Homo sapiens: one gene and its partner. The protein of the gene in region 1 purifies or fractionates together with the protein of each later gene. This does not show direct contact. Each region holds a gene or a part of one and is shown on either strand. Other genes may lie near its edges.

Region 1 (3,448 bases):
CGTTGCCTCCAGCCGCATCCTCTGGGCGATCCTTAGTGGGGGCCCTCCTTCAGAAAGGGGCAGGGACCGATGGGCCAGGACGTTGTTGCCAGAGACGAAGTGGAGCTGCACAGCAGCTGTGTCATTCTTGAGGGCCAGCAGGCCCTGCCACACGATGGGGTACTTCTGCTCACAGGGAAACAAACAGGAAGTGAGCTCATGGCCCCTCGCTGAGCCATGCTGGACACAGCCAGAGGCTGTAGCTTGTGGGTCTGTTAACTAGGGAATCTTAGGACATTTGACATGGCATAAAACTTGGGGGCCAGGAAGGGCAGCCCCTGCTCATGCTTACCTTCAGAAGTTGAACCATATCCACGGGTCTCTGGGAAGTCAGGTGTGGAGAGGAATCTTGTTTGGGGGCTGGCTGGAATTCAGTGTGTGGCAGAACCAGTCCTGGTGGGGTGCTGGGGCCAGAGGTTGTTGGGACAAACAACGGCTGTTTTGGGGCAGTCTGAGTGGGAAGAGAGACTGGAAGGTCAGGCTTCATGGAGACAGACACAGGGGAGGGGAAGGAAGTCGGGCCTGTTTCTGCTTGTGCCCTCTGAACCTGGGTGTGAGGCTCAGGTGGCCTGTTTGCAGGTCCAGCTGGGAGGCGAGGCTGCTCTACTCCCGTCTGGGTCCCCTTTGCCTCCTGGGACACTTGAGGCATCTTGCTGCTTGGTGGCTGGCCGGGCTGACCGAGCTGGGAGGGCGGGCAGGGTGGTGCAGGCTGGGCAGGCTGTGTGGACTGCACAGGCTGAGGAGGCTGCAGGGGCTCACCTTCAGGAGGAGGGCCCTGGTGTAGGGAAGGAAGGCAAAGGGACAGAGTCAGTCTGTTGTGCACAAGCCCCTGAGACCAACAAATGACCCAAAGGGCCACAGGGAAAGGATAAGATGTGGCATCTCCCGTTAAGTCAGGCCCACAGAAGGAGCCTGAATCAACGGAGCTGCTTTCGGGGTTCCAGGTAAGGAGAGATCCCCTATTACCTGCCTCCTGCTGATGCTACCCAGCAAGAGCTCCCTCCCCATATGCAGAACTCCCCATGATGTGATCTAATACTTTCATCTCAGAACTAAGAAAGCTCTTTAAACTCATGAAAAGATCAACATCTTTAGGGACTAGCTGACCAGTTCACTTGTACTCAACCACTATCTTTACCAAAAGGCGGATTTCTTTTTCTTTAAGTAGGGACAGAGTTTCACCATGTTGGCCAAGCTGGTCTTGAACTCCTGACCTCAAGTGATCTGCCAGCCCTGGCCTCCCAAAGTGTTGGGATTACAGGCGTGAGCCACTATGCCCGGCTTTTTTTTTTTTTGAGACTGGGTCTCGCTCTGTCACTGGAGCCTAGTGGCACGACCTTGGTTCAATGCAACCTCTGCCTCCAGGGCTCAAGCAATTTTCCCACCTCAGCCTCCCAGGTAGCTGAAACCACAGGTGTGTGCCACCACACCTGGCTAATTTTTGTAATTTTTTTTTTTTGTACGAGATGGGGTTTTGCCATGTTGCCCAGGCTGGTCTCGAACTCCCGGGCTTAAGCAGTCCTCCCATCTGGGCCTCCCACAGTGCTGGGATTACAGGCATAAGCCACCACACCTGGCCCCTGATTTCTTTCACACATCTTGGCTTAAAAGCCTGCTGAGCCCCACAAGCACATGCCCAACAGACAGTGGGGAGATACCTGGCTGGCTCACCTGAGCAGCTGTCTTGGTCCGGGAAGGCAGGCCAACAGAGGAAGCGGCGGGAAACTGAGTGTGTGTGAGCTGGGCCGGGGGGTGGTAGGTGCGGATGTCGCCGTACCGGTACTCTTGAAACAGCTCCCCGCTGGAGTGCACAATCTGCACCCCATGGGTCACCACCACAGGAGGGGTCAGAGGCAGCCCCTGGAGTTGGTTACTGGGGGTAACTGTGAGGATACGGGCCTCACCATGAGGGGCAGGAGCAGGGGCAGGAAGGGGGACAGGGACAGGGACGGGGGCAGGGGTGGGGGTGGGGGCAGCTTTGGCATCTGGTGTCTTGGCAGCTTCCTTCCCTGGCTGCTGAGGGGCCTTGCTGGCTGGTGGCACCTTCACCACCCCATCCGCGGCCCTGGGCTGCTCGCTGACTGCCGTCACATGTGGATGCACCATGATCCTCACATCCCGTGGCACAGTATAGGGGTGCAGTCGGTACTCAGACTGCATGACTAGTACCTCTGACTGCACAGGGGCTGTGGCTCGAGCGACAGGAAGGTGATAATGCACTTCCTCCTCGGGAGGGTGCTGGGAGGCCAGTGCAGGCACACCAGCTGGGGCTGGCTGCGGGGTGCTGGCACGCTGTGGGGCCCTGACCTCTATTTGCTGGGGCTGCAGCGGAGCCCGAGGAGAGTGAAGCGCTTCTGGCCGGATGCTGTAGGTGATACTGGGCAGCGTGGGAGTGTTCATTCTCACCTCGCCCTGGGAGAGGTGGCTCAGGGACACAGTCTGGGTGATGCTGTGGGGTGGCATGATGACAGACTGCTCTGGGTGGATGCTGGAGATGAACTGGGGCACTGGGATGCCTGCAGCCAGCATGACTGTGGCGTTGGTGGAGAGCGCCGTAGATGCAGTACTGCTGGGGTGGCTTGCCCTTGGGAATGAGGATGGCCCGGGTCCACTTGGTCGAGGAGAATGAGCATCTAGCTTTGCAGCTGCCAAATGGGAGACAGTTCGATCTGCTGGGATGCTGGGCCCCGAGGGGACATGGTTGACTTCTGTAGGCAGTTTGCTGGGCAGAGCAGGAGGGTGGTGGGGCGTGAGCGTGGACCCCAGGTTGGCCGGCTGAAGGACCTTGGTCTCGATTTTAAGGGTGACGGGGTCAGCAAGCTTCTTGTTTGTGGTGACAATGCTTGGGGTGAGGACCAGCTGGTTGTGAACCAGCACAGGGGGTGTGTTGATCCCCTGGGTGAGAACCTTCACTGTGCCTCCCTGGGTGACAGGCGTGGACACCGAGAGGTGAATGGGCTCGGGCTTCTCCAAGGATGGCCTATCGGCCTTCACAGACGAAATCACAGGAGAGGCATTATATGTCTGGGCGGTCAGTACCAACGTGGAATGGGTGGCCACGTTCGCATAGCCTGCAGGAGCTTGAGGGCCTTTGGATGGAGGCTGCGATGCTGTGACAGAATCAGGTTTGACCTGGGACTTGGACACTGACTGCTGAAATTCAATGTCCATTGCACTGGCCGGGGGGATCTGGCTGATCTTGGCGCTGATCCGCTGTGGGCCTTCGGTCTTCTGCCCTGAGTAACTCAGGAGCACAACCCCTTCAGAAGTGTTCACACGCAGCCCCGCCCCTGAGCCCGCGTCTGCCGGACGATCGTCGATCACAGGCATGGACCCTGGGTGGAACCGACTGTTTTCATTAGCACTCGCTCTCTGTTTGCACTTTGTTGACGGCGCAATCACTGCCCCT
Region 2 (3,823 bases), on another chromosome or scaffold:
AGACCAGCCTGGCCAACATGGTGAAAACCTGTCTCTACTAAAAATACTAAGATTAGCCAGGCATAGCATGGTGGCACGCACCTGTAATCCCAGCTACTCTGGAGGCTGAGGCAGGAGAATTGCTTGAACCTGGGAGGTGGAGGTTGTAGTGAGCCAAGATCACGCCACTGCACTCCAGCCTTTGTGACAGAGTGAGATTCTGTTTCCTTTCTTTTTCCTGCTATTATTTCTTCATTATTGTTTTAGTAAAGCTCTTGTAAAGTTATGTTTTACATCTATTTTATATGTTATATTTAAAGATTAGTCAATCGGAGTGTCACATTGTTTCGACATTCACAATTTATGGAAATACAGAGTTCAAATGTGTGGTAGGTGGTTTGGAATTTACAAGTAGGGAGATACAGTTGGAAAGCGGGCCATAAAGCGAGGTTAAAAAAATTAAGAAGTATTTCCTCTACCCAAAATTCCTGTTGAAAACAGAGTTGAGGCTGGTTGCAGTGGCTCACGTCTGAATTCCAACACTTTGGGAGACCAGGGTATGCGGATCACTTGAGCCCAGGAATTTGAGACCAGCCTGGGCAACGTAGCGAGATGCCGTCTCTACAAAGAATACAAAAATTAGCCTGGTGTGGTGTGGGAGTAAGGCTGAGGCAGGAGGATTACTGGAGCCTGGAAGTTCACGGCTGCAGTGAGCTGTGAACACACTACTGCAGTCCACCCTGTGTAATGGAGGGAGAACCTATCTCAAACAAACAAAAAGAGTTGAAAACCATCGTCAGTGTTTTTCTTTATGGCTGTTTTTTTTAAGCTTTATGGTCGTTCCTATGTCTAGTTCCTATGCTGCTGCTCTGCTTTAACACTGGAACAATTTTCCCTAGACCTAAAGAATCTCTTACACCATAATCGAGACCTATCAAATACATAGATTTCATTTTCCTTAACATTTTTAATGTCTGATATGTGCAACCTCAATTTTGTCTGAGATTTGCTTTTGAAATATGTACTGTGTTTTTCTGTTTCCTGTCTTTTGATGGGCATTGCAAGTTACGTTTACCGTCCTGTCAATTTTTAGTTCAGGAGTTAGATGGTTAAATGTATTTGAAATAAAAACAATTTTTTTCATATTTAGAGAACATTTGTTTGTAATTTGGCTTTTATTCTCTTATTATATTATAGGCCGAAGATAACCAGATTGGATTTTAAGAAGAATAAATTAACCTTGGTGGTTGTAGAAGATGATGATCAGGTAGGAATAAAATTATATTCTATTACTTGTGTAACAGTGACTGTATTATGTGGTAACTTATTTCTCTAAAAGAGGGAATGTACCTCATTGTTTTAAAGAGCCACAGAATGCAAACAGTATAATTAATGCTTTAAATAATTTCCTTACTTGGGTCATACCATGCTAAAAATATGGTTTTCTGCCCTTAGGATGAAAAATAATATAAAAGTGTCTTCTTGTTTCCTCATTGATCGTATATCTGAGGTGTATAAAAAATTACATTTAAGTGAGCCAGCCAGTCACCCAGGCTGGAGGGCAGTGGCACTGTCATAGCTCACTGTAACCTTCACCTTCTGGGCTCAAGTGATCCTCCTGCTCACTCAGCCTCCTGAGTAGCTGGGACTGCAGGCACATGCCACCACCACGCCTGGCTGATTTTTTCATTTATTTGTAGAGATGGGATCTCAGTATGTTGCCAAGGTTGCTCTCAAACTCTTGGCCTTAAGTAATCCTCCCATCTTAGCTTCTCAGCATGTTGAGATTACAGGAGTAAACCATTGTGGCAGACCAACTTTATCTCTTTATTAACTGATCAAAAAGATCTACCTAATAATAATAAAGCCTTTTGAATTAAAGATTACCTTTGTATCAGTTACAGTGTGGTTCTTAATTGATACATGCTTGGATGCAACTCACATGCATTGTTCTTAATGCAAGAAGCCAGATTTAAAAAATTATGTATTGAATGACTCCATTTATCTGATACTTTAGAAAAGGCAAGAAGAATTTTACTTTATGCAAATTAATAAATTTTAACATATGCATACAGATACAGATAAAAGCAGTTTGAGCAAAATGTTAACAGTTGTTGAGTCTAGACACTATGTATATGGGTATTCAGTTTTTCTGTATGTTTAAACATTTTTATAACGATGAAAATTTTTTTTTTGAATCCAGTTCTTTCATTTTCCTCTGCTCAGTAATTTGACTGCTATACTTTTCCTGTTTTAAACACACAATGGGATACTATGCAGCCATAAAAAAGAATGAGATCTTTTTTGCGGGACCATGGATGGAGCTGGAGGATATTATCCTTAGCAAAGTAATGCAAGAAGAGAAAACCAAATACTACATGCTCTTACTTACAAGTGGGAGCTAAATGATAAGAACTTATGAACACAAAGAAGGCAACAGCGGACACTGGGATCTACTTGAGTGGGGAGGGTGGGAAGAGGGAGAAGAGTAGAAAAGATAACTAACTGAAAGATAACTGGACTTAATACCTGGGTGATGAAATAACATGTGCAATAAACCACCATGACACGTGTTTACCTATGTAACAAACCTTCTCTTGTACCCCAAACCCAAAATAAAAGTTAAAAAATAAAAAAGAGTGCTGCTCTGAACACTAAGGTGTATGTATATTTAGCTTTTGTAGGTACTGCCAAACCTCTTTCCAAAGTATTTAATACGAGTTTATACTCCCACCAGCAATGTTATTGGTGTTTTTTTTCTTTTTTGCTAATGTTTGGAATTCTGTCTTTTTCATTGTAGCCATTCTTGTGGAGTAGAATGTGGTTTTAGTTTGTGTTCCCCTAATGACAACTCTGGTTTAGTACTTATCTGTGTAGTTATTGGATATGTGGATATCTTCTTTATGAAATGCCTACTCAAATCTTTTGCTTATTTTTCTATTAGGTCATGTGCCTTTTAGTCATTGAAAAAATTCTTTGTATGTTCTGGATATTAATTCTCTGTCAGATATTAGTGTTGCAAGTATCGTCTACTCCTTGTTTTGCCCTTTTTCCACCACTTTTATTTTTAGATGACATATAATAATTGTACATATTTATTGCATACAGAGTGATATTTTGATACATGTATACAATGTGTAATTATCAAATCAGGGTAATTAGCGTATCCATCTTTACTGTCTTAATAGTGTCTTTAAATAACCTGAAAAGTACCAAAAATTATAAAATAGATAACCATCTTATTAATGATCTAGATTTAACATTTTTTACATTTTGCTTCAGTTCTCTTTTAGAGAAAGATAAATACAATTATGTGCATGAATAAATAATACCAACTAAAGTCTAACCCCCTGACTACCTACCCCCTTTCTTCTGGTACCTGGTCACCAATTTTGGAGGGTATTATTCTCATATATATTTTGTAACTTTTTCCAAATATTAACTCATGTTAGAATTGTTTTAAAAACTTGCATAATTATATATATTTGCAGCTTGCCTGTTTTATCTAAACGTGTACCTATGTAGATCTAACATATATATATGCTATTGTGTAATATGAATAAACAATAGCACATTCATTCATTCATCATTTATTCATTTATCCCTCTGCATAATTTTTTACATATGCCTCTATTTACTTGACCATTTCTCTTTTTTTGGACGTTTAGGGTTTGTACCAAGTTTTACTATTATAAATGAGACTGAGGAAATATACATCTTCATATATAACTTTTGATGTTTAGGAAATAATTTTCCCCAGAGAGGCAGTATAACTTAGTTGTTAGAGGTGTATGTAGATTCTGGAGCAAGACTAATGTTTAAGTTCATTTCCGGTTTTCTTTCT

What was found.
Region 2: the proteins of SPEN (region 1) and EPB41L5 purify together in Homo sapiens (co-immunoprecipitation; one large-scale study listed by IntAct). This does not show direct contact.

What each region holds. Positions count from the first base shown.
Region 1 is NC_000001.11:15,934,529-15,937,976, reverse strand, and holds part of SPEN (msx2-interacting protein), read right to left. Parts: coding exon 1,711-3,448; intron 815-1,710; coding exon 332-814; intron 166-331; coding exon 1-165. UniProt on the Homo sapiens protein: May serve as a nuclear matrix platform that organizes and integrates transcriptional responses. In osteoblasts, supports transcription activation: synergizes with RUNX2 to enhance FGFR2-mediated activation of the osteocalcin FGF-responsive element (OCFRE).
Region 2 is NC_000002.12:120,085,995-120,089,817, forward strand, and holds part of EPB41L5 (band 4.1-like protein 5), read left to right. Parts: intron 1-1,176; coding exon 1,177-1,246; intron 1,247-3,823. UniProt on the Homo sapiens protein: Plays a role in the formation and organization of tight junctions during the establishment of polarity in epithelial cells.